Homo sapiens: one gene and its partner. The protein of the gene in region 2 purifies or fractionates together with the protein of the main gene of each other region. This does not show direct contact. Each region holds a gene or a part of one and is shown on either strand. Other genes may lie near its edges. The genes, in order: SPECC1L and G2E3.

What was found.
Region 1: the proteins of G2E3 (region 2) and SPECC1L purify together in Homo sapiens (affinity purification with mass spectrometry; 2 studies listed by BioGRID and IntAct, with this or other methods). This does not show direct contact.

Annotation. Positions count from the first base shown.
Region 1 is NC_000022.11:24,272,178-24,287,696, reverse strand, and holds part of SPECC1L (cytospin-A), read right to left. Parts: intron 10,998-15,519; 5' UTR 10,894-10,997; intron 1-10,893. UniProt on the Homo sapiens protein: Involved in cytokinesis and spindle organization. May play a role in actin cytoskeleton organization and microtubule stabilization and hence required for proper cell adhesion and migration.
Region 2 is NC_000014.9:30,550,153-30,566,076, reverse strand, and holds the start of G2E3 (G2/M phase-specific E3 ubiquitin-protein ligase), read right to left. Parts: upstream 6,920-15,924; 5' UTR 6,805-6,919; intron 5,341-6,804; exon of another isoform or gene 5,242-5,340; intron 1-5,241. UniProt on the Homo sapiens protein: E3 ubiquitin-protein ligase which accepts ubiquitin from an E2 ubiquitin-conjugating enzyme in the form of a thioester and then directly transfers the ubiquitin to targeted substrates. Essential in early embryonic development to prevent apoptotic death.

The DNA of each region.
Region 1 (15,519 bases), on a different chromosome or scaffold from region 2:
AGCAGGAGTCTGAATAGGGGCACCTCCAACAGCCACATCCACCCCACCACAGCTCCCAGGGGTTTCTTTCTAATCTCAAGGGTGGCCTATACCCTGGGACTATAGGGGGCCTTGGTGTGCTAAATCTTCAGAGACATTTTTAAACGGTCAAGACGCCTCTTGGCGACTGGAAGAAGTTCCTGACCTCGCGGCATTCCCTCCTTCCCATCCCCACTACCACACCAATCCTATGCCAGCCTGTCTGTGTCAGGGAAGAAGTCCAGCTGGACAACTCTGGCAGCCTCCTGTCGCCCTCCCCTGCCAGCAATCCTTCTGTGCCACAGCTGTGTGTCCACACTCTAAAGCACACATCCCACCAGGCCACTCTCCTGTAAAATAATGCCTCACTGTCCCAGGCCAAATACCCCAGCGCCGATACCTGCTTCTTCAAATCCAGGCTCCAACCCATCCCTCCATCTCATTTCCATTTTACGTGCACACATAGTCACACACTCTCACATACCCACACTTTGGCTCCTACTGTTCCTACCCCTGAAAACCCCTTACCACTTTCCTCCCTGAGAAATAACTGCTCGTGCATCACTTCAGGACTCAGCTCCACTGCCGTGTCCTTAGTGATACCTTCCCTTGTCTCTAGTTGGTTGGCCCCCCATCCCTCTTACCTTTCTGGCCACAGCACTCACCTAAGTGTCTTTTATCCAGACAACATTTAGGGTATACTTAGACCAAAAAAGTCATCACTATTTATCTGAAATTCACATTTACTTATTTTTAATTTTCATTTTTTTGGAGACAGGGTCTCGCTTTGTAGCCCAGGCTGGAGTGCAGTGGCGCGATCTCAGCTCACTGTAACCTCTGCCTGCAGGGTTCAAATGATTCTTCTGCCTCAGCCTCTTACTTGAAAAACAGACAAAAGCAAAGCTATGATGTGAATAGCCTGAATTACTGCAAAAAGTACATGAATGTCAGAAGTAAATCCTAACTCTTACTAGATAGGTCAGTTAATCAGTGACACAGTTCACGGCCTGTTATTAAGATATCCTATAACTGAGTCTAGAACTTTACTCACTTCTTAGTGGTAGGACAAAGATATAAGACAGAAAAAGAGGAAAGCAGTAAAAAGTACTTCCTTTCAAATTCAAAATGTCATGGTCCATACTTCCTTGTTAAAATGCCGAAACACACCATATGACTCAATTATTAATACAATAATTTTGCTGTTACCAACTTAGGATAAGCTTCACCTATGTCTTTATCTCAGGAGCAATGTATTGCAAGTTCAAGCAATAAAGTGTAATTACATGCGAGAATGTCAATATAACATAACCAATCAGGTACTAAAAAAACAGAATATGTAAAATAACTATGATGTTTCTTCCCAATATTTCATTCTCATTTTTAAAAAGTAAACTTTCAGAACAGTACTGTAAGACATAAGCAAACTTTGACTTTCAGTAAAAGGTTACTACTAACAGCAAGTGTCAAGAATAGACTACCATGCAGATTTCACTGCAGCTTACCCCCACTTTATCAGATGGAAGTCTTAAATCTAAGCCTTCGAAACTATATTCTAGGTTACAAACATCACCAAAAAATCACCAAAGCCCTACACACATATACATGCCTCTGAGAATGTTGCCTGTCGAATCTGATTTACTGAATAAATGAGTAACTTGATTATTTTAGCTTAAATAAACAATCGCTTTTAAGGACTTCAAAACACAAAATCAAGATTTTCTTTTCAAAAAAGAACAGCGCGCCAGGCGCGGTAGCTCACGCCTGTAATCCCAGAACTTTGGGAGGCTGAGGCGGGCGGATCATGAGGTCAGGAGTTCAAGATTAGCCTGGCCAACATAGTGAAACCCCGTCTCTACCAAAAATACAAAAATTAGCCGGGCTTGGTGGTGGGTGCCTGTAATCCCAGCTACTCAAGGCTGAGGCAGGAGAATCACTTGAACCCAGGAAGCGGAGGTCGCAGTGAGCTGAGACCGCGACACTGCACTCCAGCCTGGGCGACAGAGCAAGACTCCGTCTCAAAAAAAACAAAACAAAACAACAAAAAAAAAAACAGCAGTATTGTTTTAGATCATAACACTTAACATAGACCACGTGATACACAGAAGGCAGCTCTTTGAATAGGAGCAGCCTGGGACATTTGCTGGCTTGTATTCATGAATTTACATACCAAGTGGAAAGAACTCAGACTGGTTGGGTAGAATATGCGTTCAAATGCTAACAACTCCACTACTTATTAGTTATCTGGCTCTGGGCATATTACTCATCTCCAAATTTCGGTCTTTCATCTTTAAGTAGAAACAGCTAACACATAGGATGCTATAAGAACCACATCAAACGATGTGTGGAAACTAACAAGGAAAATGCTCAGCCCACAGAATTACAGTAAGCATCCATCTCCTTTCCTTCCCACTACAACCAGAAGGACAAATTTCCCTTTATCCTAAACTTACTTTCTTCTATCTTGTCACAGTACTAGTAGACATATAGCTCTCCCTTTCCACTACAATCCCCAGGGCTGCTTCCACTCCGACTTAAGCAGAGAAACTTCAGAGGTTCTTCTAGACAACTACAAACTTTGTCACCCAATCTAAGTGTGTGCCACCCTCTTCCAATCCTAACCACCACAGCTTTGATCACTCTAGAGTTTAATTCAACACAGCTTTCTTTTACCTTCCTCCATCTTCCTCTTCAATCAACTACAAAATTACACTTACTTTTCCTTTGATTGTCCCTGGTGACTATGTGTCTCTCCCTTTCTCTTCTCATCCACTCCCTCTACTCTGCATGAGTCACTCCACTGGCCTTTTATCAGGCTTTCTTGACTGACACCGATCTCTCTGATCCTTTCTGTATTCTTTCAAATTGTCCTCCTTCTTTCTGAACTGTTGCTTTTTAAAGATGGGATAATAGTATTGTGGTGGTGTTTTTAATTTTAAAGATTCTCAGCTGGGTGTTGTGGTTCACGCATGTAATCCCAGCACTTTCAGAGGCCAAGGCAGGCAGAACACGAGGTCAGGAGATCGAGACCATCCTGGCTAACGCGGTGAAATCCCGTCTCTACTAAAAATACAAAAAAATTAGCCGGATGTGGTAGTGGGTGCCTGTAGTCCCAGCTACTCGGGAGGCTGAGGCAGGAGAATGGCATGAACCCGGGAGGCAGAGCTTGCAGTGAGCCGAGATCACGCCACTGCACTCCAGCCTGGGCGACAGAGCAAGACTCTGTCTCAAAATAAAATAAAATAAAATAAAATAAAAGATTCTCTATTAATTAAATTACAAAATAATGGAATATCTCTGGAAAATTCTGAAATACTTGGGAACTCACATACTTCTACGTCTATGAACTAAAGAAGAAACCAAAAGGGAAATCAGAATGTGTTTTGAACTTAAAATGAAAACATAACATATCAAAATTTGTGGGCTATCCTTAAATTACCTTTAAAAACTTAAAGCAGTAAAGGGAAATTTATAACACTAAACACCTATGTTGGAAAAGAAGAAAAGACTCAAATCAGCTCCTACTTTAAGAAACATGAAAAAGAAGAGCAATGAAACACAAAGTATGGAGAAGAAAAGAATAAACATCTAAGCAAAAATCAATGAAATAGAAAACGTAAAACAGAGATCAATGAAACAAAAAATGGGTTGAGAGGATCAAGAAAACTGATAAACCTCTAGCCACACTCATAAAAAAGAGAGGACACAAATTACCAGCATTAAGAATGGAAAGGGTAACAACACTACAGATTCTACAGCTATCAGAGGAAAATAAGAGACTGTTAGAAACCACTTTATGCCAGTAAATTCAAGAACCTAGATAAAATAAATGAATTTCTTGAAAGACAAACTATCATAAAATAAATGAATTTCTTGAAAGACAAACTATCGAAGCTCAAACAGTGATAAATAACTTGAATAGCTCTATAGTTATTGAAGAAATTGGATTTGTAGTTAAAAACTTTCCTACAAAGAAAACCCCAGGCGTAGATGCATTCACTCAGGAATTCCACTAAAGAAGAAATAAAACAAATTCTTTACAAACTCTTCCAGAAAACTGAGAAGAATATTTCTCAACTCATTCTATGAAGCCAGCATTACTTTGATACCAAAATCTGACAAAGACATTACAAAAAAAGAAACCTACAGACCCATATCTCTCGTGAAAATAAATGTAAAAATTACAAACAAAATTTTAGCAAATTGAGTCTAACAATCTAGAAAAAAAGGATAATATATCATAACCAAGTAGGGTTTATCCCACAAATGCAAGGTTAGTTTAACATTCAAAAATCGGCAAGGCAGGCTGGGCGCGGTGGCTCACGCCTGTAATCCCAGCACTTTGGGAGGCCGAGGTGGGCGGATCACCAGGTCAGGAGATCGAGACCATCCTGGCTAACACGGTGAAACCCCATATCTACTAAAAAGACAAAAAATTAGCCGGGCATGGTGGCCAGCGCCAGTAGTCCCAGCTACTCCTGAGGCTGACGCAGGAGAATGGTGTGAACCCAGGAAGAGGAGCTTGCAGTGAGCCGAGGTAGAACTACTGCACTCCAGCCTGGGCAGCAGTACAAGACCCCATCTCAAAAAAAAACAAAGTTATCGGCCAGGCACAGTGACTCACGCCTGTAATCCCAGCACTTTGGGAGGATGAGGTGGGTGGATCACCTGAGGTCAAGAGTTCGAGACCAGCCTGGCCAACATGGTGAAACCCCGCCTCTACTAATAATACAAAAATTAGCCAGGCATGGTGGTGCACACCTGTAATCACAGCTATTTGGGAGGCTACGGCAGGAGAATTGCTTGCACCCAGGAGGCAGAGGTTGCAGTAAGCTGGGATTATGCCACTGCACTCCAGCCTGGGTGACAGGGTGCGACCCCGTCTTAAAAAAAAAAAAAAAAATTCAAAACTCAATGTAACTCACCACATTGTAAACTAAAACAGAAAAGCTGTATGATCTTCTCAATACACACAGAAAAACACTAAACAAAACCCAACATTCATTCCTTATTAAAAAAATACAAAACTCCACACAGAGGATAACCTACTAAACCTGACAAACAGCATATATGAAATACCTGTAGCTAATATCATACTGAATGACGTAAGACTGAATATTTTCCCCATAGGATCAAAAATGAGACAAGGAAATCCACTTTTACCACGATTGAAACTGCCTTTACAAAATTATGACTGAGACAGTGAGAGATCTAACTTAACTGACTCCATCTTGCTTCTAACCTCCCAGTTGTCCTTGCTCATTCCTGGGTGTAGACTGAACTAACTTCGGGAGAAACTTATAGTTTATAGTTTAAAACAAAGATGGTAACAGCCCTTTCCCAAAGCAGACCTCCTTCTTGCCTGGGCACCAGACTGCCTTCGTAGGACTCACATTAGACACAAGATTAGAAATTATGGTTTAGGAGTCACGCAGCTGAAGGCTAAAGATTCTGACCCTCCCTAAACTGCTCTTGAGATCAGTGCTTGAGAAATTTTGCAGACCCTGCACTTGATGGATCAGCTGGCACCATCCAGATCGATTAACTGGCTCATCTGATCTTGTGGCCCCCACCCAGGAACGGACTCAGCTCAAGAAGAAAGTTTCAACTCCTTTTGATTTCACCCCTGACCAATCAGCACTCCTGGCCCATCGGCTTCCCCCCACCTACCAAGCTGTCCTTAAAAACTCTGCTCCTCAAATGCTCAGGGAGACTGATTTGAGTAATCATAAAACTCCAGTCTCCCACCCAGCAGGCTCTGCCTGAATTACTCTTTCTCTATTACAATTCCCGTCTTGATGATTCCGCTCTGTCTAGGCAATGGGCAAGGTGAACCCATTGGGCAGTTACACTTCTATTCATTATGTACTTAGAAGTTCTAGCCAGTGCAGTAAAGGAAGGAAAAACAAATAAAAGGCATTCAGAGTGGGAAGAAAAAAGTACAACTGTCTTTATTCACAGACAACATTGACAGAATAGCCAATGGAATCCATCAAAAAGCTTTGAAAACGAATTACATTAAGGTCTCAGGATACAAGATTAATACACAAAAACCAAGTATTATTTTTATATATTAGCAATGAATAATGGGAAGTTGAAATTCACAGTATCAAAATATATGAAATAGAAGTAAATCTGACCACATCCCTTCAAAAAACTGGAAAGATTTGTACACTGAAAACTACAAAATATTGTTGAGAAAAATTAAAGAAAAACTAAATAAATTGAGAAGTATACCATGGTCATGGGTTAGGAGATTCAATTTTATTAAGAAGTCAATTCTTCCCCTGAAATTATCTACAGAATCAAAACAATCCCAACAGAAATTCCAGGAGCTTTTTTGTAGAATGTGACAAGTTGATTCTAAAACACAGAAATGCAAAGGACCTAGGACTGATAATTGTTGAAGGTAGGTGATAAATACATCACTTGGTATTTCACTACATTTTTCTCTCTACTTTGTAAATGTTTGAAATTTTCCATAGTGAAAACATGTTTTGAATAAAAACTCAGATGCTTCCAGGAACACATATAAATACAAAACATCCTTCCTTTAAAATTTTCATTACATTACAAAAATGGTTTCCTCTTACATACTACCTTAAGTCTAACTCCCTGGCTTGGCTTCCCAGGCCCTATAACCAGTCCTCTCTGCTTCCTGTTCCTCTGTAACAGGGGTAAACAAACCACAATCCGGGGCCAAATCTGACCCATCACTTGTCTTTTTTCAGCCCAAAAACTAAGAATGTTTTGCATTTTTAAATGGTTGGGGGAAAAAAAATCAAAAGACTATTTTGGGCTGGACACTGGCTCATGCCTGTAATCCCAACACTTTCGGTGGCCGAGTAGGGTGGAGAGCGTGAGCCCAGAAGTTCAGGAGTTCAAGACCAGCCTGGCCAACATGGTGAAACGCCGCCTCTACAAAAAAATACAAAAACTAATGGGGGGCGGTGGCAAATGCCTATAGTCCCAGCTACCTGGAAGGCTGAGGTGGGAGGATCACTTGAGCCTGGGAAGTCAGGGCTGTAATAAGCTGTGGTCATACTGCTGCCCTCCAGCCTGAGCAACAGAGTGACACTGTCTCAAAAAAAAAAAAAAAAAAAATGTTATTGAAACATAGTCACATTCATTCACATCTGTAGTGGCTGTGGTTACTTTTGCACTACAATGATGGAGTTGATTAGATGCAACAGAGACCTTAAGGTCTTCAATGACTAAAACATTTACTGTCTGGCCCTTTACAGACAGTCTGTCAATCCCTAATTTATTATATGCCTTCTTCTCCCTCAGCTAACTAATTGCCTCACCCCAGGAATGTTCATTACTACCTCTTCTTTGTTCAAGCCCCAGCTACTCCTCAAAACCCAAAATTCCCTTCTTCCCCTTTCCCAAATCCTAACCATATCAGCAGTTTGTGTGGAAGTAGGTAAGCAAAACACCATTCGTCATTATGTAAAGCAAGGCATTGGAGATGCGGTCCCTACATGTACAAGGGGAGGCTGATTACCCCCCAATTCATTTCCAATTTCTCAAAGCAGGTTGGCAGGCTAGCACCTAGGAAGGAGAGAGTGAGCAGATGATGCAGACAGAGCACTGAGAAACTCCTCAGTAACTCATGAGAGTTCATGTGTCAGTCCCCTTGTCTGCTATGTCATCCTTTAGACATCAATTCAAGACAGCAAAATTCAAAAAAGAAATGAGGAAGAAAAAGGTGATGAGGGGCAGAAGGAAAATAGAAGAGAACTTGTCACTTCACAATGTAGAGACTGTCACAAACTGTGGTGAATGGAAAACTATTCTGTTCACCTGGGCGTGGTGTCTCACGCCTATAATCCCAGCACTTTGGGAGGCTGAGGCGGGCAGATCACTTGAGGTCAGAAGACCAGCCTGAGCAACATGGTGAAACCTGGTCTCTACTAAAAATACAAAAAATTAGCCGGGCATGGTGGCACATGCCTGTAATCCCAGCTACTCGGAAGGCTGAGGCATGAAAATCACTTGAGCCCAGGAGGTGGAGGCTGCAGTGAGCTGTGATTGCACCATTGTTGCCCTACAACCTGGGCAACAGAGCTAGACCTGTTTCTAAAATAATAAATAATAATAATAATAATTAAAAAAATAAAATGTACATTTCTAACTTCATTTCAAAGTTAAGGCCAGGTGCAGTGGCTCATGCCTGTAATCCCAGTATTTGGGAGGCCGAGGCAAGGGGATCACTTGAGCCCAGGAATTTGAGACCAGCCTGTGCAAAATAGTGAAACCTTGTCTCTAAATTAAAATAAAATAAAAAGTAAACAAAGTCAAATTTTTTTTAAAAATCAGAAGAGAAACGTTGAACTGCATACTTCCAGGCCCAACAGAGTAGAGGTCAGCACAGGCGCAACCAGGTTGCATATCTACATACAATCTGCCCTGGCAGGAAGGATATCCTTTTCTTCCAGGTTTAACCACTCTAGGTGACCCAGATTATTTTAAATTATAGCGTCAACAATTTAAAGCAGCTTTTACTGTAAGGCACAATCTCAATAATTAATAGGGCAATATAATAAATACATAAAAGCTCAGGGAGAAAACAAGACTCTTGAATGGGCCTGGAAGTTTTGCCACGTCCCCCGAAGTACTCTCGGTTGCATCCTTCGGAACCTTTCAACACATATACATATACCTCCCTCATCCTTTTGTGAAGAGTGTCTATTAATCACTAGATTAAGAGGATTTGGATAAAATTTATAAACGTACAAACTGTGCTACCAAGGACTGACACATTTACTTTTCTGGCTCATCAGTTTATGTCCTAGAAAAACTCCAGATCCACATTAACCAGCTGTTTCCTATTTTACATTTTACGATGGTGTTTCCACTTTCACCTGCAAAGTGACTAATAGTAATACCTATTCCAGTAATTTAAGTAACACCATTTAGAGTAATTTCATCTTTAGTACTGTATTTATACTACTAAGAAAGCTGCCAACGATTCAAGCTGCACTCACTGGTGAAACCCTATGCTATATATGTAATTAATTTATTTCCTAAATTCTTACCTCCCTCCACCCCCTCCATTGGAAAATAAACTCTAAGAATGCAAAAGTTTTTGTGTGTTTTTCTTTAACGCTTAGAGCAGTGCCTGGCACCTAACAGTCAATATCTGCTAACTTTGATGAATGAATGGTATATTTATATTATGCAATATTACTATGCAGCCATGAAACACAATGAGTTAGAGTGGTACCAGCTAATTTAATGGAATTTCCAGAAGTATGAAATTAAGAAAACAAGAAGAAAAGTGTCAAAAATATCATCCCACTTTTTTTTTTCTTCCCTGAAACGGAGTCTTGCTCTGACACCCAGGCTACAGTATAGTGCTGCCATCATGGCTCACTGCAACCTCAAACTTCTGGGCTCAGGGAATCCTTCCACCTCAGCCTCCCATGTAGCTGGGACTACAGGTGTGTGCCACAACGCCCAGCTAATTTATTTTAAATTATTTTTTGTAGAGACAGGGTCTCCCTATGTTGCCCAGGCTGGTCTCAAACTACTAGGCTCAAGTGATCCTCCCACCTCAGCTTCCTGAAGTGTTGGGATTACAGGTGTGAGCCACTGTGCCCAGCCTAATCCCACTTTTTAAAAAGTATACCCCCAAATCCATACACTGGTGAGGAAGTGGAGAACGTGGAATCCTCATACACAGAATTTAAAATGGTACAGCTCTGGAGAACATTATAGCAGTTTCTCAAAGTGTTTAACATAGCTACTACACGACCCAGCAATTCAATTCCCAGATATACACCTGAGAGAACTGAAAGGATATGTCCACACAAAAATTTGTAGAGGAACTTGTACACACTTGTTCACAGTAGCATTATTCTTAATAGCCCAAAGTGGCAAAAACGCAAATGTTCATCAACTGATGGACAAATAAAGCATGAACAACTGATGGACAAATAAAGTATATCATTCAGCATATAAGAAATGAAGTGCTAATACATGCTACAACAGGGACAGACCTTGATAACATTTTGCTAAATGAAAAAAGCCAAACAAAAGGTCACATGTTGTATGATGCCATTTACATAAAAATACCTAGACTAGGCAAATCCATAGAGACACAAAGATCAGTGACTGCCCAGAGCCAGAGGGAGTGGTGAATGTGAAATGACTACTAATGAGTACAGACTTCTTTTTGAGGTATTGAACATGTTATGGAATCAGATGGTGGTGATCAATGCATAACTTTGTGAATATACCAAAAACCACATGAAAGGTACACTTTAAAAGCCTGAATTTTAAGGTATGTGAATTATATCTCCATAAACCTGTGATTTTGTTAATATACGCTTATTTGCAAATGAATACATGGATAATGAGGAATAATATGAAAGGTTAATGACAACCTTGGTGATAGGGTACCGGAGACTGGGAGAGGAAGATAAGTGTTGAGGTAGAAGAAGACAAAAAATAAAAGACCAAAACAATAATCCAAAGCCAGGGGCCATGAGTTGGGAGATGGAGCAAGACGAAGTGTACAAAGAAATGAGCATAAATCATAAAAATGAGGGAACTAGGGTTGAAAAACCCAGTAAGTAGTTTGTAATGGGGGAGACGAAGCAAACCTAAGTAACTGCAATGATTCAACAGAATTTGCAGAAAATGCAGAAGGGCGAGAAAAACAATGAAAAAATGGATCAGAAGATTTAAAATTGGCTCTACCCCACCAAAGTTTTAAAAAGCAAGCAAGAAGAAAATTCAGTTGCTCCTGGGCAAGAATTCTTGGGCCCAGTGGGGTAGAACCAAACCATGATAAGGAGACACCAGTGTTTTGTAAGCAAGAGAATATATTAAGGAGAGAAAAGGGGCATTTATTGGGAGAAAAGGTCTCACTGTGATTGTTCTGGAATAAAGTAGCCCCATCGGACTGCCTCAGGAACTCATGATGGAAGAGGTGCCACTGGAAAATGGCTTAGTCGGGATCTTCCCCAAGAACACTAGAAGAGAGAGAGGAAGAATAGAATAGCTTTAAATTTTAGCAGATATTTCTTTTTCTTGTTTAATTAAAATAAACCTTATTGACCTAATATTTTTGAGACTGGGCTCTTGCAATGCTGCCCAAGCTGAACTCAAACTCCTAGGCTCAAGAGATTCTCCCACTTCAGCCTCCTGAAAAGCTGGCACTACAGGTGCGCACCACTGGGTCCAGCATAATGGCTATTTCTTGACAAATCTTGACAATGCCACCAGTATGTTTTTCTTTAGAGACAGAGTCTCGCTTCGTAGCCCAGGCTGGAGAACAGTGGTGTGATCCCTAGCTCACTGCAGCCTCAAACACCTGGACTCAGGAGATCCCCCTGCCTCAGCCTCTCAAGTACCTGAGACCACAGGTGCGCACCACCACACCTGGCGAATTTTATTTTTTTTTATTATACTTTAAGTTCTAGGGTACATACACCTGGCTAATTATAAAATGTTTATCTGTACAGACAGGGTCCCGTTATGTCGCCCAGGCTGGTCTCGAACTCTCGGCCTCAAGCAGTCCTCTCCTCTTCACCTTCCAAAGCCCTGAAATATGCCCACATCCAGCCTGCCACCAGTTTCTTTGCATACTTCTTTCCTAGGCTTGACCAAGACCTTTACTTTCTTCTGTGTACAGCTCAGCATTGAAAAAAAAAAGTTTAGGCTGGGCACAATGGGTCACACCTGTAATCCCAACACTTAGGGTGGCCAAGGCGGGAGGTTTGCTTGAACCCAGGAGTTCCACACCAGCCTAGGCAAGATGGCAAGACCACGTCTCTCAAAAACAATTTTTGTAAAATTAGCCAGGTGTGCTGGTGCGGGCCTGCAGTCTCAGCTAGTGAGAAGACTAAGGCAAGAGGAACCCTTGAACCCAGGAGTTCAAGGCTACGGTGAGCTGTGATCACCTCTCCAGCCTGGGTGATAGGGTGAGACTCAGTCTCTGAAAACAACTAAAAATAAAAAAAGTTGAATAATGAGTCTTCTTTTTAGAGGCAATGTATTTTTCCTCTTTAACTTTTTGTTTTCCTTAGGCTATATGCACAATAGACAAAGTTGAAATTTAATCTTAATCTCTTAAACCCTTACTGTCCAAACACATCAAACTCAAAAAAAAAAAAAAAAGGTGAAAGGTGTACAAGAGAAAAAAGGGAAGTGATCTGTGTCAAATGTACATTCCTTCCACAATTTGGGATAAAAATGATGCCTACCTGGTCTCTGGGTGCCAAAATAAGACATTAGAGACACTCCCCTCCTTCAAGAAATAAAATTGGAATCAGACACTAAGGTACAATTAAACAGACTTTGAAAAGTTGGTACGCACTACTGGGAGGTGTCTCACAGCTGTCAGGGTCAAGTGCAACTAGAATAAAAGCTCCTAAGGGCAGAAACTAAGTGGCTCACTTCCTCTGTAACACTGCCGTGCCCAGCACTGTACCAGCACCCCAGCAGAGTCAACAACTTTCTGTCAAGCCACACACTTACGGTCTCATTGTCCAGTGGAGGCCGCAGACGAGACATAGTGTGCCAAATCCCAAATGCACAGGGTGCCAGACAAGTCTGCAGGAGGCAGGAGGACTAGGGAAGCCTTCCAGGCAAGGTGATGCCTGAGCTGAGTTGTTTTTCTTTTGAGTTTGGAACATTAATTTAATCGGAGGAAAACAAGGGACATGAAAAGGGCAAGGAAATAAGAAAATGAGCTGAGTTTTGAAGGCAATGATCAGATGAAGTGAGAGAAGAATATTCCAGCAGAGGGAGACAAGGAGACTGCAGAGATTTCAAGGGGCCAAGAGCTGTTCAGTGCAGCTCAGTGAAGCACCTAAACAGAGGTAGGGGAAGGAGAACAGGGGTCAAAGCCCAGTATTGAAGTGTTCTGGATACCAAGCTAAGGAGACCTTATTACGAAGGTACTGGGGCTGCTGAAGGGTTTAAATGGGAAAGTGATTGTGAACAGATTAATAGTTTGGAAAGATACAGGCAGAAGTAAACCTCTGGATTTAACCAAAAAATAAAGGACAGAACCACAATGAAGATGTTTGGAAAAGATCAGGAAAAACACTGTTAAAAGATATTCACTCTCTTCTCTTATTTACAGATTTCCTTTATGGAATACCAAATTATTCTTTGAAAATAGAGAACTCAGAAGTGGCTGAGAGCAGTCAGTCAGTCTTCAGAATGTAAAAACTACTATTCTGAAGAAGTAGATATTACATTATTAATTTCATTTCAAGATGCTTTAAAAACGTGCCTTTTGATACACTGCAGGTTTTTTAAGAGTATGTCACAATAACTCTAAATCTTACTTGAAATTAATAGAAGAGCACTATAAATTTTAAAGGCTTCACAGACACAGGGATCATCTGTTATGTTCACTTTGGAACAGATCATAATTGTCCCTCCCTCTCAACATACCCAAAATACGTTGTTTAAGGCTACTTTCCTAATGGTCATGTTATTTCACAGTAAAAGACTGAGGTCACAATGATTTCTGAGCTGACAGAAAACCCCATGGGGGTTCTTTACCTCGCATCTAGTCTATTCAGTACTAACAATTCCAACCACCAGAAAGAATTTCCCTGCCTAGGCTTATTTGTTGGCACAACACAAAAAAATCTCCTGGGGCTGGGTGAGGTGGCTAGTGCCTGTAATCTCAGCACTTTGGGAGGCCAAGGCAGGCGGATCACCTGAGGTCGGGAGTTCCAGACCAGCCTGACCAACATGGAAAAACCCTGTCTCTACTAAAAATACAAAATCAGCCAGGGGTGGTGGCACATGCCTGTAATCCCACCTACTTGGGAGGCTGAGGCAGGAGAATCGCTTGAACCTGGGAGGCGTAGGTTGCGGTGAGCGGAGATCATGCCATTAGACTCCAGCCTGGGCAACAAGAGCGAAACTGTCTCAAAAACAATTATATCTAATAAAAAAGATCTATTTAACAATGATCAGAATAGGAACATCTTTAATGCCATGCAAATTTAACAGCTTTCTCAGTGGATTTCTCAGTAGACTGTGACCAATGATCTCAAAATAAACTCATATTTACTCTTAAGAAATACTCTATATTTGAATCTTCTTAACAGCAAAAGCCCCAGGAACTTTTTCCTGAACTCCCTAACAGCAGCAGGAAAACAAGAGATTCTCGGCTCTCTTTATTTTTAAAAATCACAATAACTACCCTTGCATTTACTATTTACGTTTACCATATATCACCATTTACTATCACCATCATTTCATAAAAGATGCTTTATTTTAACACCAAGAAAGCAGAACTTTTTTAAAGAAAAGATAGTCCTTCAATTGAATAAATTGAATTGTATAAAAGACTCCCAATATTGTCCTTTTTTTCTTATTTCTGTTCCCTTACTGAGCTGAGCAGTTTGCATAATACCACACACAGGTTAGTCATGTGATTTAAATATGTATATGATAGTAATTTTGATACTATCACTTAAGTCATTCGAAATATCAGATGCACTGTGTGTCAAGTCAGTTATAGAGAACCACTGCTTCAGAGAAATCACATCTGAGGAAGAAACACCGCAGATACACCTCCTAAAAGTTCACCTTTGAAACAGAAATTTTGATACAAACTTCACTTTAACTACAACTGTAATTGTAATTATTACAGTTATTCTCCACTCACTAGATACTGTACTTGACACTCACGTTATTTAGTTGGCTACCAACGTGCACCTGTGATAAAGCTTTCCTATGGCACAACATTCACTTTCTTACTGAAAATGTCAAGAAAACCCCTACACACCTGCAACCATTAGGAAGCATTCTCCAGCTATCAAAAAAGTCACTGAATCGGCTAAGCGACTCTGTGTGGTATACACTAAATCAAAGGGGAAAAGGTGTTTTTTTGGAGGAAAAAAATACTGGATTAGCCATTTATTGAAACAATTTTACCCACAACAATACTTCTCCTTTCACTATATACCCTTCTATGTTGGTTTGGTTATTTTACAACATACATGTATATTGTAATAGCTGTTTTTTTTTTTTTTTGAGACAGAGTCTCACTCTGTCGCCCAGGCTGGAGTGCAGTGGCGAGACCTCGGTTCACTGCACCCTCTGCCTCCTAAGCAATTCTCCTGTCTCGGCCTCCCGAGCCGCTGGGATCACAAGCGTGTGCCACCACGCCCGACTAATTTTTATATTTTTTGTAGAGACGGGGTTTCACCATGTTGGCCAGGCTGGTATCGAACTCCTAACCTCAGGTGATCCACCCGCCTCGGCCTCCCAAACTACTGTGATTACAGGCGTGAGCCAGGGAGCTCGGCCTTGTTATATCTGGTTTTTGTTTTTTTGAGACGGAGCCTCGCTCTGTAGCCCAGGCTGGGGTACAGTGGCGCGAACTCGGCTCACTGCAACCTCCGCCTCCCGGGTTCAAGCGATTCTCCTGCCTCACCCTCCTGAGTAGCTGGGATTACAGGCGCGCGCTTTTTGTATTTTTAGTAGAGACAGGATTTCACCATGTTGGTCAGGCTGGTCTTG
Region 2 (15,924 bases):
GTTTTATAGTAAACTAATTTTCAATAAGGGTGCCAAGACCATTAAATGGGAAGAAAACAGTCTCTTCGACAAATGGTCCTGGGACGACCAGACAGCCATGTAAATAAGAATGAAGTTGGCCAGGTGTGGTGGCTCACGTCTGTAATCCAGCACTTTGGGAGGCCGAGGCGACAGATCATGAGGTCAGGAGATCAAGACCATCCTGGATAACATGGTGAAACCCAGTCTCTACTAAAAATACAAAAAAATTAGCCGGGTGTGGTGGTGGGTGCCTATAGTCCCAGCTACTTGGGAGGCTGAGGCAGGAGAATGGCATGAACCCAGGAAGTGGAGCTTGCAGTGAGCCGAGATTGTGCCACTGCACTCCAGCCTGGGCAACAAAGCGAGACTCCATCTCAAAAAAAAAAAAAAAAAAAAAAAAAAAAAGGAATGAAGTTGAACCCCTACCTCACACGCATTAAAAAAAATCAACTCGAAATGGATCAAGACCTAAATGTAAAAGACAGAACTATAAATCTCTTAAATGAAAATCTAGGGGTAAATTTTCATGACCTTGTATTTGGCAATGGTTTCTGAGATATGACACCAAAAGCACAAGCAACAAGAAAAAAATAAATTGAACTTTACCAAAGTATAAAACTTGTGCATCTAATGACAATCTACAGAATGGGAAAAAATATTCAGAAATCATATAACCTGAAAAGGGTCTAGTATCTAGAATACATTAGAAACTCTTACAATGCAACAACAAAAAGACAAGTAATCCAACTTAAAAATGAACAAAATATCTGAAGACATTTCTCCAAAGAAAATATTCAAATGGCCAACAGCACATGAAAAAATGCTCATTATATTAGTGATAAGTAAATCAAAGCCACAATGAGACACCACTTCATGTCCACTATAATAGCTATAATAATAATTTTTACAAACTAAAATAGTAAGTGTTAATGATGATATGGAGAAATTAGAACCCTTACATATTGCTAGTGGGAAAGTAAAATGATGCAAGGGTGGAAAACAGTTTGGCAATTCCACAACACATTAAACAAGACTACCATATCACCCAGCAATTCCACTAGCTATGTAACCAAAACAATTGAAATATTTCAGTTCAAACAAAAACTTGCATACATATGTTCACAGCAGCACTATTCACAAAAGAGATCACTAAATCAATACATTACAAAGAAACAACCTAATTATACATCAATTGATGAATGGATATACAAAATGTGGTATATCCATAGAATGATTATGTGGCAATAAAAAGGAATAAAGTACTGAAACATGCTACAACATAGATAACCTTGAAAACATTATATTAAATGAGGGAAGTCAGACATAAAAGGTTACATGTTTTGGAACTAGGTAGAGGTGATGGTTGCACAACATCGTGAATGTACTGTCACTGAAATGTCTACTTTAAAATGGCTAATTTTTGACTGGGCATGGTGGCTCACACCTGTAATTCCAGCACTTTGGGAGGCTGAGGTGGAAGGATCGCTTGAGGCTAGGTGTTTGCAACCAGCCTGGACAACATGGTGATATCCTGTCTCTATAAAAAAAATTTTTAATTAGCCAGTCTTGGTGGCAAATGCCTGTAGTCCTAGCTGCCTGGGAAGCTGAGGTGGGAGGACAGCTGGAGTCCAAGAGTTGGAGGCTGCAGTGAACTATGATTGTGCCACTGAGCTCCAGCTTTGGGTGACAGAGATCTTGTCTCAAATAAAATGGCTAATTTTATAAATGGGAATTTTACCTCAAAAAAAGGTCAAATGTACACCTATCATATGATGCAGCCAAGAGAAATAAGGCATATGTCCATTGTACACAAAGGTCAACAGAAACTTTATTTGTGATAACTAAAAACTGTAACAATGTATATGGATAAAACAAACTGTGGTATATTCATACAAGAGAATACATTTACTAAAACTCATTGAACTATACCCCTAAAATGGGTGACTTTTATTGCATACAAATTGTATACCAGATACTTGTTTAAAAGTTAACAATTTTTATTTAAAACAAAAGGATAAGTTTAAGATAAAAAGCAATGGCTGGGCGCGGTGGCTCACGCCTGTAATCCCAGGACTTTGGGAGGCTGAAGCGGGCAGATCCCTTGAGGTCAGGAATTTGAGACAAGCCTGACCAACATGGCGAAACCCTGTCTCTACTAAAATCACAAAAATTAGCCGGGCGTGGTGGCAGGTGCCTGTAATCCAGCTACTCAGGAGGTTGAGGCAGGAGAATCACTGGAACCGGGAAGGCGGAGGTTGCAGTGAGTCAAGATCCCACCATTGCATTCAGCCTGGGCAACAGAGTGAGACTCTATATCACACACACACACACACACACACACACACACACACACACACACAAAAGTAACAAAGTTACAAGTTTACATTAAGTTATCAATATATAACTAGTCCCCAGGAAACAGATGTCATCCTCCCCTACCCCACCCCACCCTACCACCCATTGGCTCCATATGTCCATTTTCATGTTTCTTCATGATTCCACTGTCATAGCAACACATAAGACCTTTCCAGCTTGGCTTCCAATAGTCTTGTGATATCCCAACTCCAAAATCAAGAAATCACATGAATGGTCTAGCCTGCATCAGATATGCAGCTCTGATATAAATACCTGTACCAGTTTTGTTGGGGAAGTGGTATGGGACTTTAAGTGGTATGGGGCTTTATGTCCCTTAGACCAACCCTACCTACTGGTCATGAGAATGATGTCCCTACATTGTTGGGCAGGTTTTTAAAGAAAAGCTGTGGGCAAGATTAGGCAACTGTCTTAAGTGATCAAACGGAAAAAGAAAAGTTTTGTTTTTTAATTCCCTAACATTTTGAATTAAGATACTTTTTATTACATCTAACATACCACTCATAATTAAAAAAAAAAAAAACTGTACCAAGAGTGTAGGGACCAGCCCCACAGGATCGGTGGGTTTTTCTCCCCGTGTGCGGAGACGAGAGATTGTAGAAATAAAGACACAAGACAAAGAGATAAAAGAAAAGACAGCTGGGCCCGGGGGACCACTATCACCAAGACACGGAGACTGGTAGTGGCCCCAAATGCCAGGCTGTGCTGATATTTATTGGATACAAGACAAAGGGGCAGTGAGCCATCTCCAATGATAGGTAAGTTCACGTGGGTCACGTGTCCACTGGACAGGGGGCCCTTCCCTGCCTGGCAGCCGAGGCAGAGAGAGAGACAGCTTACACCATTATTTCTGCATATCAAAGACTTTTAGTACTTTCCCTAATTTGCTACCGCTATCTAAAAGGCAGAGCCAGGTGTACAGGATGGAACATGAAGGCAGACGAGGAGTGTGACCATTGAAGCACAGCACCACAGGGAGACGGTTAGGCCTCCAGGTAACTGCGGGTGGGCCTGACTGGTGTCAGGCCCTCCACAAGAGGTGGAGGAGTAGAGTCTTCTCTAAACTCCCCCGGGGAAAGGGAGACTCCCTTTCCCGGTCTGCTAAGTAGCGGGTGTTTTTCCTTGACACTGACGCTATCGCTAGACCATGGTCCTCTTGGCAACGGGCGTCTTCCCAGACGCTGGTGTTACCGCTAGAACAAGGAGCCCTCTGGTGGCCCTGTCCGGGCATAACAGAAGGCTCACACTTGTCTTCTGGTCACTTCTCACTATGTCCCCTCAGCTCCTATCTCTGTATGGCCTGGTTTTTCCTAGGTTATGATTGTAGAGCGAGGATTATTATAATATTGGAATAAAGAGTAATTGCTACAAACTAATGATTAATGATATTCATATATAATCATATCTAAGATCTATATCTAGTATAACTATTCTTATTTTATTATTTTATTATACTGGAACAGCTCGTGCCCCCAGTCTCTTGCCTCGGCACCTGGGTGGCTTGCCGCCCACACAAGAGGAAATTAAATATTTTAAAAATACATTTTAAAAGCTACTAAATCTTTTGGTGCCTCAGTTTCTTCATCTTAATATAGAGATAATAAAATGGTTGTGAGGATTAAGTGAGAAAATATGTATAAAGCATTTTAAATTCATGAATATTAACAAACATTGCTCCTGATTTTTTGCCACTTGAAATGTCCTCTGAGCCTATAATTTCAATACTTATTTTTCCATAGTTTATAAACCATATGCTATCACTAAAATCTCTACTAAACTACACAGAATTATATGCTATCATCTCAGAAAAAAGCCAAGCCTTAAAAAAAAAAAAGCAACAACTTTTTGAGTCATTAACCCAAGACAAAATGTGTTAAATTGTTAAAATAATAAGTACTCACTGAACATACACAGTTTCAGAGTATCATGACACTCACTGTTCTGCACTGTGCACTGCAGACATAAAAATTAAAAGGACAAGGGCAGTCTCGCACTATATATTTATAAGCAAAAAGCACAGCCTGGAGAAGTCTTTAAACCCATTTGAGTAAAATCTTAAGGGGAAATAAAAAGGCCAATGGCTAAATATGCATAAAATGTAATAAGAGATAGATTTGGAGAATTCTAGTAGTATTGATAGAACATCAGCAGGTTGGAAGAGACTGGTGTAATATTATGAAGATGGTCCTTGGGAAGAGAAGTTGGTACCAGACTCTGAAGGGCTCTGTAAATAAAAAGCAAAGCTAAGAAATTTGAATTATATATGGTAGACAATGAGAAGCCATCAGAGATACTTATGGAGCAACATCTGGAGGGAGACTGAAGAGAGGCAAGAAATATTACTTTTTTAAAAAAGCATAAACTTTTGAGTTAAATCTAATTTCCGACTTCAGTTCCAACGTGTTACTAGTTGTGTGAGAACAAATTACCGAGCCCCTCTTAGCCTGTTTTCTTATTTGAAGATAGTAACTACCTCAGCGATATTGTAAAGATTAATGAGAGAATGTATGTGATGCGGTTTTTACAGTTTAGTAACTCAATGTAATTGGAGACTTATGTATCATTTGCTATGTGGCACACACTATTTTAAGGTCTTTGTATATATTAACTCATTCAATCCTCACAATAATCCTACAAAGTAGGTAACCTCATCATACGGTAGAGGGAAATGAAGCAGAGAGGTTAAACAGCTTGCCCAGGGTCACCTAGCTATCAAGTGGTGGAGATGGGCTTCAAACCAAGGCAATCTGGCCCCAGTTCCATGTCTTTAATCAACACATTATAATGCCTTTCTAGGAAAGATCAAATCAGTGTTTTGAAAACTCACAGTATTTTCTAACCTTTCAGTTAAATATGCAGACTGTTCAATGCCATCCTCCAGACCTACTGATTCAGAATCTGAGATCTGAAGTGCAGGAATCAGCATTGTTGAACAAATCCTTCAAGGTAGTGTATACACAATAAATTCTGAAACTCACTGATTTAAGAAAGAGCAAAAATCCAATGAAAATAATTCAGGTAGAAAAAAATAAAGAGATTAGGATATAGCGATCAATTTTTAAAAATTACCATTTGTTGACAGCACATATGAAATGAGCAGAAAGGCTTAGAGAAGTATAGCCAATGTCTCTGTTACAAAGACACTATATGAAAAATGCTCATATTTTAACTATCCTAAACACCGAGTATTTAAGTCTATTCTTCCTGGCTAACACTTAAAAGTTCAATAGCAGGAAGAATGGGGGTGCTGGAATAGCCAGCACTGGATGAAGGAATGTTTTTATTCTGATTATTATGAAGTCCTACTTTTAAAAATATATTTATACATTTAAATGGTACAATATCCTGGTGTTAAAACCTTAAAAGGAACTTAAAATATCTTTTCGTATTAAGCTACACAAAACTGACGATTTTTAATAAAGATGTAAAACTTGTACACATTTAAAGTTCCCATTTATAGTTTACATTTATGGCACACTTTTAAACCATTCCAGAAGGCATGACTTTACTACTGGGTTAGACAGAGTTCCATATTTCAGATAGTTCATCATTAAAAATTAAAAAAAAAAAAGCCCAAAACAATAAAACCCAAAGAAACAGATGCTCAAAGCATTAGTGGATTACTTCCAAAAAGACTCCATAATAACCCAGTTGGCCAATGAATGAGGGAGGCGAAAAGGCAGGGCGGTGGAACTAAACCTTATCCCTATTGTTTGCAAACTAAGACCCTAGTTAATCACCACCGCTGTTACCACAGCCGGTTTAAATAGGAGTCTCGGATTTTTGCGGTACATGAAAAATGTCAACCGTGAAAGAAAAATATCCGGGTTTTAAATACAAAGGACACTCGAATTTCAGTTTAAATCCCACTCAGGCATTTCAAAGACTGTCACTTCCCTGCAGTCCAGAGTTAATCAAGGTTGCCCGGGTATCTCTCTCAGGAGGAACGCGGAGCCACGTAGAGCATCTTTTCATTCTAAACCCGCCCCAACCTTCCATCTTTCATTAAAAGAGATTTGTTTAAACGTGGCAACGCCTTCACAGTGAGATTTAACTACTGTTAAAATTTCAGCATTCGAGCCGAATTGGTGGAAATAATAAACTACGGGTTTAAAAAAAGCCACGGAGGATGCGTATAAACAAGGTTTACTCGCGGGGGACCGGCAGGGCCTCCGAATCCTCAACACTGAGAGCTGGCTGGCGTGCGCAACCGTCGAGAGCGCTGGTCCAGCAAACGCCCCCAGTGCCCCGAATTCCCTTAGTCTCCAGGCCGGGCCCCAGCACCAGACGTCCCCAAAAGCACTGCGAGGCCCCGGCTGCGACGTCCGGCCTCCTGACACCCTCTCCCACCCCACGGTCCTGCTTCTCTCTCTGGAACGTTCTGCGTCTTCCCGTTCCCCATTTACTCACCAAGGAGAGCTGGGCAGAAGTTCCAGAGCCTCAGTGCCACTTTTCCCGGCCCGCTGTACGTCGGGGCACGCCGACCGCGAGCAGCCACATTCAACGGCCCACAGGATTCAAATTCGTCCACTTCCGCTCGCAAACCCGGAAAGAGCGGTCGGCCCCGCCCTCGAGGGGTGGGACCCGCGGAGGCGCTGGCTGTGGGGAAGGGCCCGTGTGCTCCCGCCCTTCTGGCGCTCCTGCGCTGCTGCTCGGTGCTAACCTGGCTGTGTCGCCTTCGCTTGTTTGTTTTGTCGGGTCTCTCTCCCTATTTAGGAGCTCAGAAAAACTCCGGGCGCGGGGTCATTGTTTCCGCCTATTTGCTCTTGAGGGGATCCTCTTTTTTCCAAAATGGACAGAGATGTGCTGAAGTTTCGTCACCTTCGAGGAATGGGGCGAATGAAAGCACGAACGGAGGCAGGAGGGTTTTATCTTTCCCTTCATCCTCGAGGAAACAGCAGCAGCAGCAAGAAGGAAAAAAACAAACCCTCCAAGTACTTAGTGCAGCCTTTCCTGGGCCTCTCAGTCCTATCCCGGCACAGTCAGGGCTTTTAATTTATTTCTGTCCTGGGTTTAGGGAAAACAAAAAGCCAAGTTCACCCGTATTCAGCCAAAAGTTGAAAATAAGTGGTCGGACCAATTCCTGGTCTCAAATAAACTATTTGATGGTGTTAGAAGGCAATAAATTTTATTTCCCCCCTCAGATAAGGGCTCACTTTACGAGATTATTAAGTATTGTCCCGTGAGATTATTGAAACAACAGTATCTTTTCCTTTATCGAGGACCACAGTATGTCTTTGATCCAAAACGTCTTAAGCTTCTGAAGAGACATCTGGGAGCTTCCAGAAACTAAAGGAAGGACTGGAAATGCTAGGGGGTGAGGGGCGCTAAATAACTCTGACCTTTATGGCTGTGATTGATGTTGCCACCAGATCATCCTCACATCTAATAACATTGAATTACCTAAACGGATCAGTACAAACCAAACCATGACAGCATACCTTTAGCCTTTGTCAAAAATACAGTTTGAGGGCCGGGCGCGGTGGCTCACGCCTGTAATCCCAGCACTTTGGTAGGCCGAGGCGGGTGGATCACGAGGTCAGGAGATCGAGACCATCCTGGCTAACATGGTGAAACCCCGTCTCTACTAAATGTACAAAAAATTAGCTGGGCGTGATGGCAGGCGCCTGTAGTCCCAGCTACTCGGGAGGCTGAGGCAGGAGAATGGTGTGAACCCGGGAGACGGAGCTTGCAGTGAGCAGAAATTGCGCCACTGCACTCCAGCCTGGGCGACAGAGCGAGGCTCTGTCTCAAAAAAAAAAAAAAAAAAAAAAAAAAAATACAGTTTGAAAGGTTTACTAGATTTCTGAGAACCTATGCTACAGGTAATCTGACACAGGGGGTGTGTAAAGCTATTAACTGATGTACTGTTTTTAACAGTGGAAGATAGAAAATAATCTGTGTCTACAAATAAGGAAGGGGTTAAATACATGTAAGTTATGATACTTTAGCATCTGATATACTGACGCTGCGGGCACTAAAAGTAATGAAGTAGATCAGCGGGTACTGAAATGAAATACTGAAAAAGTTTAAGAAGGACTGTAGTATCCTTGTTTGAAAGTATGTGTGTGTATATGGTATACAAAGTTTTGGGATGGATACCTAAGCTGTAAACATCTCTGGGAGCGGGCTGGTAAATAAGAGTAGGAAGAGATGGAGAACTTTTACCTTTCACTTTATCACCAGTTGAATTTTTAAGATAATAAACTTTTTTTTTAATTTTGCAATTTTGTTCTTTAAGGAAGATTGCTAGAAATTGAATACATTCTAGATACAAAATCAGGTTTAATGAGCGTATAAATTTCTAATGTTTGGATAGTCTATGTCCATTCATTCATTCAACAGTTCTTTCTACAATTACATATAATGATTTGACCACACATTTTGTCATTCATGATATAGTGTATTATTTTATGTTTACATATCTAATATGACCCCGTTAAATATATTGCTCCTTGAAGTTTCTTGAAGGCAGAAACTATGTTATATATTTTCCTATGTCTTTCATAATTCTTGGCACCTTCCCACCATTCTTATCCTTCACAGGAATTAAATTCTCAAGTTGACCTGTATACAAAAGTTAAAAATGCCCTGGAAAAGCCACCCAAAAGATTATATATATATATATGATTTTCTTTATACAACTCTATGAGCAAGGTTTTGTGTTTTTTTTTTTTTTTTTCAGTTTGTCCCCTGAGTTCTCCTTGGTCAGTTCTTCTCTACAACCCTTAATTAATTCTTCAATTTCTTCCGCTAAAATGTTGTCAAAGTCATTATCACCCCGCAGCCTGGCCATCACTTGGAATAATGAGATTCAGTTCTCATCAGTGGTGGAGAGCCCTGTAAAGTCATTCACATTTTTTTCCATAAGATTAGCCAGGCTTAATTGTATTAATTGTCTAGGGTTGGTGTTCACTGAATGGACTATCTGGTTATCTGTACTAATTAAAATGTTGTTCTTTTTTTTTCACCCAGAGTGAGTATAGGTGATTTTGAATACAAACAATATTCAAGTAATGTTACAGCATTTTGTGAACAAAAAAGATCTTCAATAAATACCCACTGACTAAATCAAAGAGCCTGAGTACATACAACTTAAGGACTTCTTTGAGACGGAGTCTCTCTCTGTCGCCCAGGCTGGAATGCAGTGGCGTGATCTCTGCTCACTGCAAGCTCCGCCTCCTGAGTTTATGCCATTCTCCTGCCTCAGCCTCCCAAAGTGCTGGGATTACAGGCGTGAGCCACCGCGCCCGGCCACAATTTAAGGACTTTTGAAAGAAAATATTCATTGCAGGACGTACTTAAATCTAACAAACCTGGCCATCAGACCAGGCATTCTGAGAGCTTATAAACATTTTAAATTGAGTGAAATTGATATAAGTATTCCACTTAATACATGCTGCAAAAAATGAAGAATAAAATTAAGAATTTTATTCAGTCTCTGATAATCCCTCAGTAATGTGAACTAGCTGAGAACTGAATTCTTAGAAAATTTTAGTCATAGCTAATGTAACCTCTCTTTCCTGCTTTCCTCTTCCTATTCAATCCACATACAGCAGAAAACAAAACAAAAACACTCCTGGGACCAAGGGTCATCAATTTTACATGGAAGAAACAACATAAACTGCTTTGGCAGAAGAATTCCTATAATCTACTCTAAAAGGTTTTTACCACAACCAACATGAGTAACAGAAATGATAAAATGCGTAGAAATAAATTTTAAAGAAAATTCACAAAATCAAATTAGAATTCAATTTAATTTAAAATAATTTTTAAATTTTAAATACAGTTTTAAAGAAATTTTCTTTAAAGAAAGATATAGAACCTGCTACTTTAAAATATAATTTGAGAACATAAGTGATTTCAATGTTCATATAGGAAAATTAATATGTAAGAATTGTTAAGACATATTAGAAAAAGAAAACAGAGGTCAGGAGTAGACAATTTGTCTTACTAGAGAGTAAAAACTTACCACAAAGCTGCTACAAAGAGTAGCCAAAAAAAAAAATCAGACAAAAAATATAGTATTAGCACAAAAAAGAAAAAGAGAATCCAGAAAAATGAAACTATATAGAGAATATTAATATATTATAAAGGTGATATTTCCTTTTCAGGAAAAGGATGGGTTCATTCATAAATTAACAAGAACTGGAAATAACTGGCCAGCTATATGGAAGATATAAAGTTAGGCCTGTACCTTTTATCATATACCAAAATAAATTCTAGAAACATTAAAGATTGAAATTTTAAAAAATAAAACAAAAGTATATTGGGGAGAAGTTTAGAACGGTAACTGTGACTTTAGGGTAGAAGAGACTTCTCAAACAAGGCAGGGCCAGGTGCAGTAGCTCTTGCCTGTAATCCTCGCACTTTGAGAAAGCCAAGGCGGGAAGAGCACTTCAAGCCAGGAGTTTGAGACCAGCCTGGGCAACATAGTGAGACTGCTGGCTCTACGAAAAACAATTTTTTAAAAAATTTAGCTGGGTGTGGTGGTGTGCACCTGTAGTCCCAGCTACTCAGGAGGCTGAGGTGGGAGGATCCCTTGAGCCCAAGAGTTGGAGGTTGCAGTGAGCTGTTGCACCACTGCACTCCAGCCTGGGTGACAGAGCAAGACCGGAATCCTAGAAACCATAAAATAAAAGATGAGTATGTTTCATTATGTTAAAGTTTAAAATATTTGAACAGCAAAAGTCACCATGACACATTGAAAGATAAATGAGGGACAATGATAAAATATTTATAAAACATAGGACACTAGGTTAACAATTCTAATGTAAAAACTTTTATAATTTTTTTCAAAAAGCAATAAAAATGGGCAGAAGAAATGAACAAGTAATTCATTGAAAAGGAAATGAAAGAGGACAAGACACAGAAAATACTCAACTGTACTACCTCACTTTTGGGAATACAAATCAACCAACCAAATACCAAGTTTATTGGATTAGCAAAAATTAAAACAATTCACAATATCCCACACTGGGAGAGTGTGGTGGTAAAATGTACACTCTTTTTTTTTTTTTTTTTTTGAGACAGAGTCTTGCTCTGTCACCCAGGCTGGAGTGCAGTGGCGCGATCTTGGAGCTTGCATTTGGTATATGATAAAAGGTACAGGCCTAACTTTATATCTTCCATATAGCTGGAGTGCAGTGGCGTATCACTGCAACCTCCACCTCCCAGATTTAAGCAATTCTCCTGCCTCAGCCTCCTGAGTAGCTGGGATTACAGGCATGTGCCACCATGCCAGGCTAATTTTTGTATTTTTCTAGTAGAGATGGAGGTTTCCCCATGTTGGTCAGGCTGGTCTTGAACTCCTGACCTCGTAATCTGCCCGCCTCGGCCTCCCAAAGTGCTAGGATTACAGGCGTGAGCCACTGCGCCCGGCCAAATGTACACTCTTATCCACAGGAGCATACATTGCTACAGCTCTTGGAAAGTAACTCAGGCTTTTCTCAACTTTGGGATTCTCCTATAGAAATAAGCATGCTAGTGCTTTTTGAAGCACTACTTACAGTGGCTGCTAACTGGAAACAACTATAAAGAGGAAGATAATTGAATGAGTTAGGGTACATCCATCCTGTTAGGAGGCCATCCAAAGTTGTGTTGCTTTGCCCCCTAAACCATTGCCTCCAGAGTTAGGGCTATTGAACCCCCAAAGACATGCAAATAAGAAGGTATGGTATTCTTTAATTAGAGAAATAACAATGCTATCTTATACTGTAAAGCTGATAAACCTGGCACTCATTCTTAAATTAGCGCCCACTAGAATTAGTATACACTTTTGGACTAAATTGTCCTTTACAGGAACTCATTCCTCCTCTGTGTTAGCCATATTGAACTTCTGGTAACCCTTCCTGCCTTTCAGATGAATCAGATTTTTGTTTTACCCTCAGCCACTACCCACATTTGAAGCAAATACTTGACTCATACTTAAGGCAGATCCATCCCTGAATGTCTGTTCACTTTTCTTTTATCTTCCACCTTGAGGATAAATTTCTAGCTTTCTCTCTAGCCTGTCTCCTCAGCAATACCGATTAATATTCTGCCTGGTATCTGATAACCCCTCACTTATCTGTTGCCTTGATTAGAGACCATCCCTGAGATCTTAGAATGAAAGTTTTTAATTAAGTTTTCTGTGACTCAGAGCCCTAATAGAGTCATACTATAAGAAGTGTACTTTGAGGCCGGGTGCAGTGGCTCACACCTGCATTTTATGTGGCTCACATAAAATATGTCACAATCAGCTACTCAGAATACAGGCCACTGTAGGACTCTATTCCCAAACTTCTACTTCACTAACCTCTAACAAGAATGTAAAAGCATGAAATAGAGGTAATTCTCTTCTCTCCAGGTGACTTTATATCTTAATCATTCCTACTGTACTCATGATCTTGTTACTGCTCCCGTATTTACCTCAGGTTTGTTTTTTACTTCCTCCTTTAATGGTCTTTTTTTCTTCTTCCCCTCTCTGTGCTCACTGTCCTTATCTGTTACTTAGGCTTCCTCTATGATTCTCAGCAATATTTGAATACTTTGGAATATACTTAGTATTTCTAATTATGGCATTAATGCTACAAAATTTTCATCCCATGATTCCAAAATAAATTAGCCTATATTATCATTATTATTACTATTAATTGTTGAGACAGGATCATGTTCTGTCACTCAGGTTGCAAGTGCAGGGATATGATCATGGCTCACTGCAGTCTCAACCACCTGGGCTCAAGTGATCCTCTCATTTCAGCTTTTCAAGTAGCTGGGGCCACAGGCACGCACTGCTATGCCCAGCTAATTTTTTTTTTTTTTAATTTTTGTAGAGATGGGGGAATCTCGCTATTTTGCCCAGGCTGGTCTTGAACTCCTGGGTTCAAGTGATCCTCCTGCCTCAGCCTTCAAAAGTGCTGAGATTACGGGTGTGAACCACTGCCCCCAGCCATAGCCCATATTGTTGATCATCTCTTGTGTTGAAGACATAATGATAATATCATACGAAATAAGTACATGACCATTATTAGTGTATGACTCCATGATTAATAATAATTTGCCAAGCTTCTGCTATGCTGTCAGCAGTGCTAATATGTTTCTGAATGGAGTTGTATTCATTTTCTCAAGCAGAAAGGGCTTGATGCCTGATGCACTAAAAGCCAATATACAATGACTCTGGGCTGTTGGGAAAAGAAAAGCTTTTTGTTATATGTCAACTCACAAGAAGACAGGAGTCCAGCTCAAAGCCGTCTCTCTGTGTTGGCTTTACTTTTATTAGAAAAGGTTTAGGGGGTGATTCTGAGACTAGTAGGTGATTGGTGGAAGAAAAGGGGAGGTCTGGAAAGTCCTCAGGCACGCCCAGTTATCCCTTTGTGCCTCCTCATGGGTCACAGGTGCAAATTTAGGGGGACTTAATATGAAATGTGGTAGAAATTCAGGCTGTGACATCAACAAATTTGCTCTGCGCAAACTCCAGTTGGCCACATTGTTTCCAACAGTTCAGTTCATTGTTTCATCCAGTTTTTTAAAATCCCTCAAGTAGAGGGAGTTTCAGCTTTTCGGCAAGTTGTTTCCTTTTATTATTGACTAACCTTCAAATTCAAGAATGTCTGTTAGTTATTGGTTTCTTTAACTCTTTGGAGCACAGTTTCATTCATGTGTTTACTAATATGTTTCTTACATTCATTTGCGTGACCAGTCTTTTTATATCAATTTTTGAACTTGAATTAAGATACATTTTTGGGAAAGTATGTTGTCTGCTATCAAACAGAAGTCTTTTCTTCATTGTCTATTTACTTGGATCTTTTGATCTAAAGTGTTCATCTAACTGCTGTTCAGTCTCTTGTAAGTTAAACACACCTCCTCCTGGCAGCAGGAAGCAGCATCCAAAACAGCGAATTTCAGGTCTTTTGTTTCAGGGTTGTTTGGATAATAAGTAGCTATACAGTAACCACAGTGATTTGGATTGACATCATGCCTGCTGGGTAACTGTATGGATTTTACAAAGGACTCAAAGTTTGCTTGTAGCCAATATGAGACATGTGTTTTAATATAGGTCAAAGATGTGGTATGTTTATGTTAACATTACTCCTCTCTAAGTTGGTGTTTCAAACAAATGATTGTCTGGATTGCTTTTTAAAATTGCTGTCTTTTGGCCTGAAGTGTTTACATAGAAATCAGAGCCTCTTTACAGTTAAGAGTAACTCCAAATGCAGGAACACACATTGGTAATGCCACCCAGAATAAATCAAGTAATGAACAACATGCTTGAACTGAATCTTTAACATTCTTGGATACAATTGCTGGCAATCAAAACTGTTTTCAGTTTGTGTACTTTGATTTTTTAATCCCTCCCAGAATACTTGCGGAAAATGACTCCGCAACTGAATTGATAAAGTGACTCAGTTATAATAAGCCCAATCCTTACCTGAGTGTTTTGTTGGGGGTGAAAGAAAACTTCAAATTCTCACAAAGGTCTAGGGCACAGAATCATCACTTAGGAAGCAGGCACTTGCTCAAAGTTTAGCTTCAACACTTAGGGCCATTCTTTAGGAAACATTTTTCAAGGATAGTAAGTAGTGCAATGTTAAGAGGCGAACCTGAAAGCAAAACAGGCTGAGGTTTAAATACTAGCCGTTTTACTTACTAGCTAAGTATGAAGTACCCAATCCTTTGAGCTTCACTACACATTAATCAGATGTAAATAATAACTACCTGACAGGTTTCTTGTGAGCTCTAAGTGAGAGGACATTTAATGGTAATTATAATTAGGCAAATGGGTAAGACATACAGTTAACATCCCCTTCCTTCTCCTTTCAATGGCATCTGGCATTCCATGCCCAGTATCCTTAGGCTTGTGAGCCACTGAAAGGCACAAAGGAACTCTCCTCCCAGGTGGATCTTAGCCTCATATTCCTTTTCTCTGCCCTTCAGAACATATGATACATTCCTTAGTGACCTGCTGTCTACTTTCCACCTTGGTAGTGATTTGAGTTAATCCATGTTTATAGAAAGAGCTAATAAACTAGCTCTAATAGGTCATATTTGTAGCTGAAATAGTGAGAATTTCAGGGCAGTTTGATGTAATGTTTGCTATTTAACCCCTGTACAATTTTTTAAATTGTTTGGGTTTGCAAGTCTAGTATCTCCAAGTTGACTCACTTCTTAGGTATTGTACAGTAATAGATATTAAACTTTAGCCTTCCCACAGTGGTCATAATGGGGCAATGAGTCTTCCTGTAGGTGAGGTTAACTAATAAAAGGTATATGATTGGAAAAACATAAAAGGAACTAACATTTGTTTAATGCTTTCTACATTCAAAACACTGTGCTAAAACTAAATGTTGATTTACTTAATCTTGACAAAGTAGGTGATGAAACTAGGGCTTAATAAGATTAAATAATTTGTCCAAGGCCACAGTAGGCAGAACTGGTATTTTAACTATAGCTTGTTTGGTTGGACACAAAGCTTGTTCATTTTCCATTACAATATTTCAATTCACACACCCAGCAGAGATAGGAGCAGTGATAAGAAACCTAATATTAATC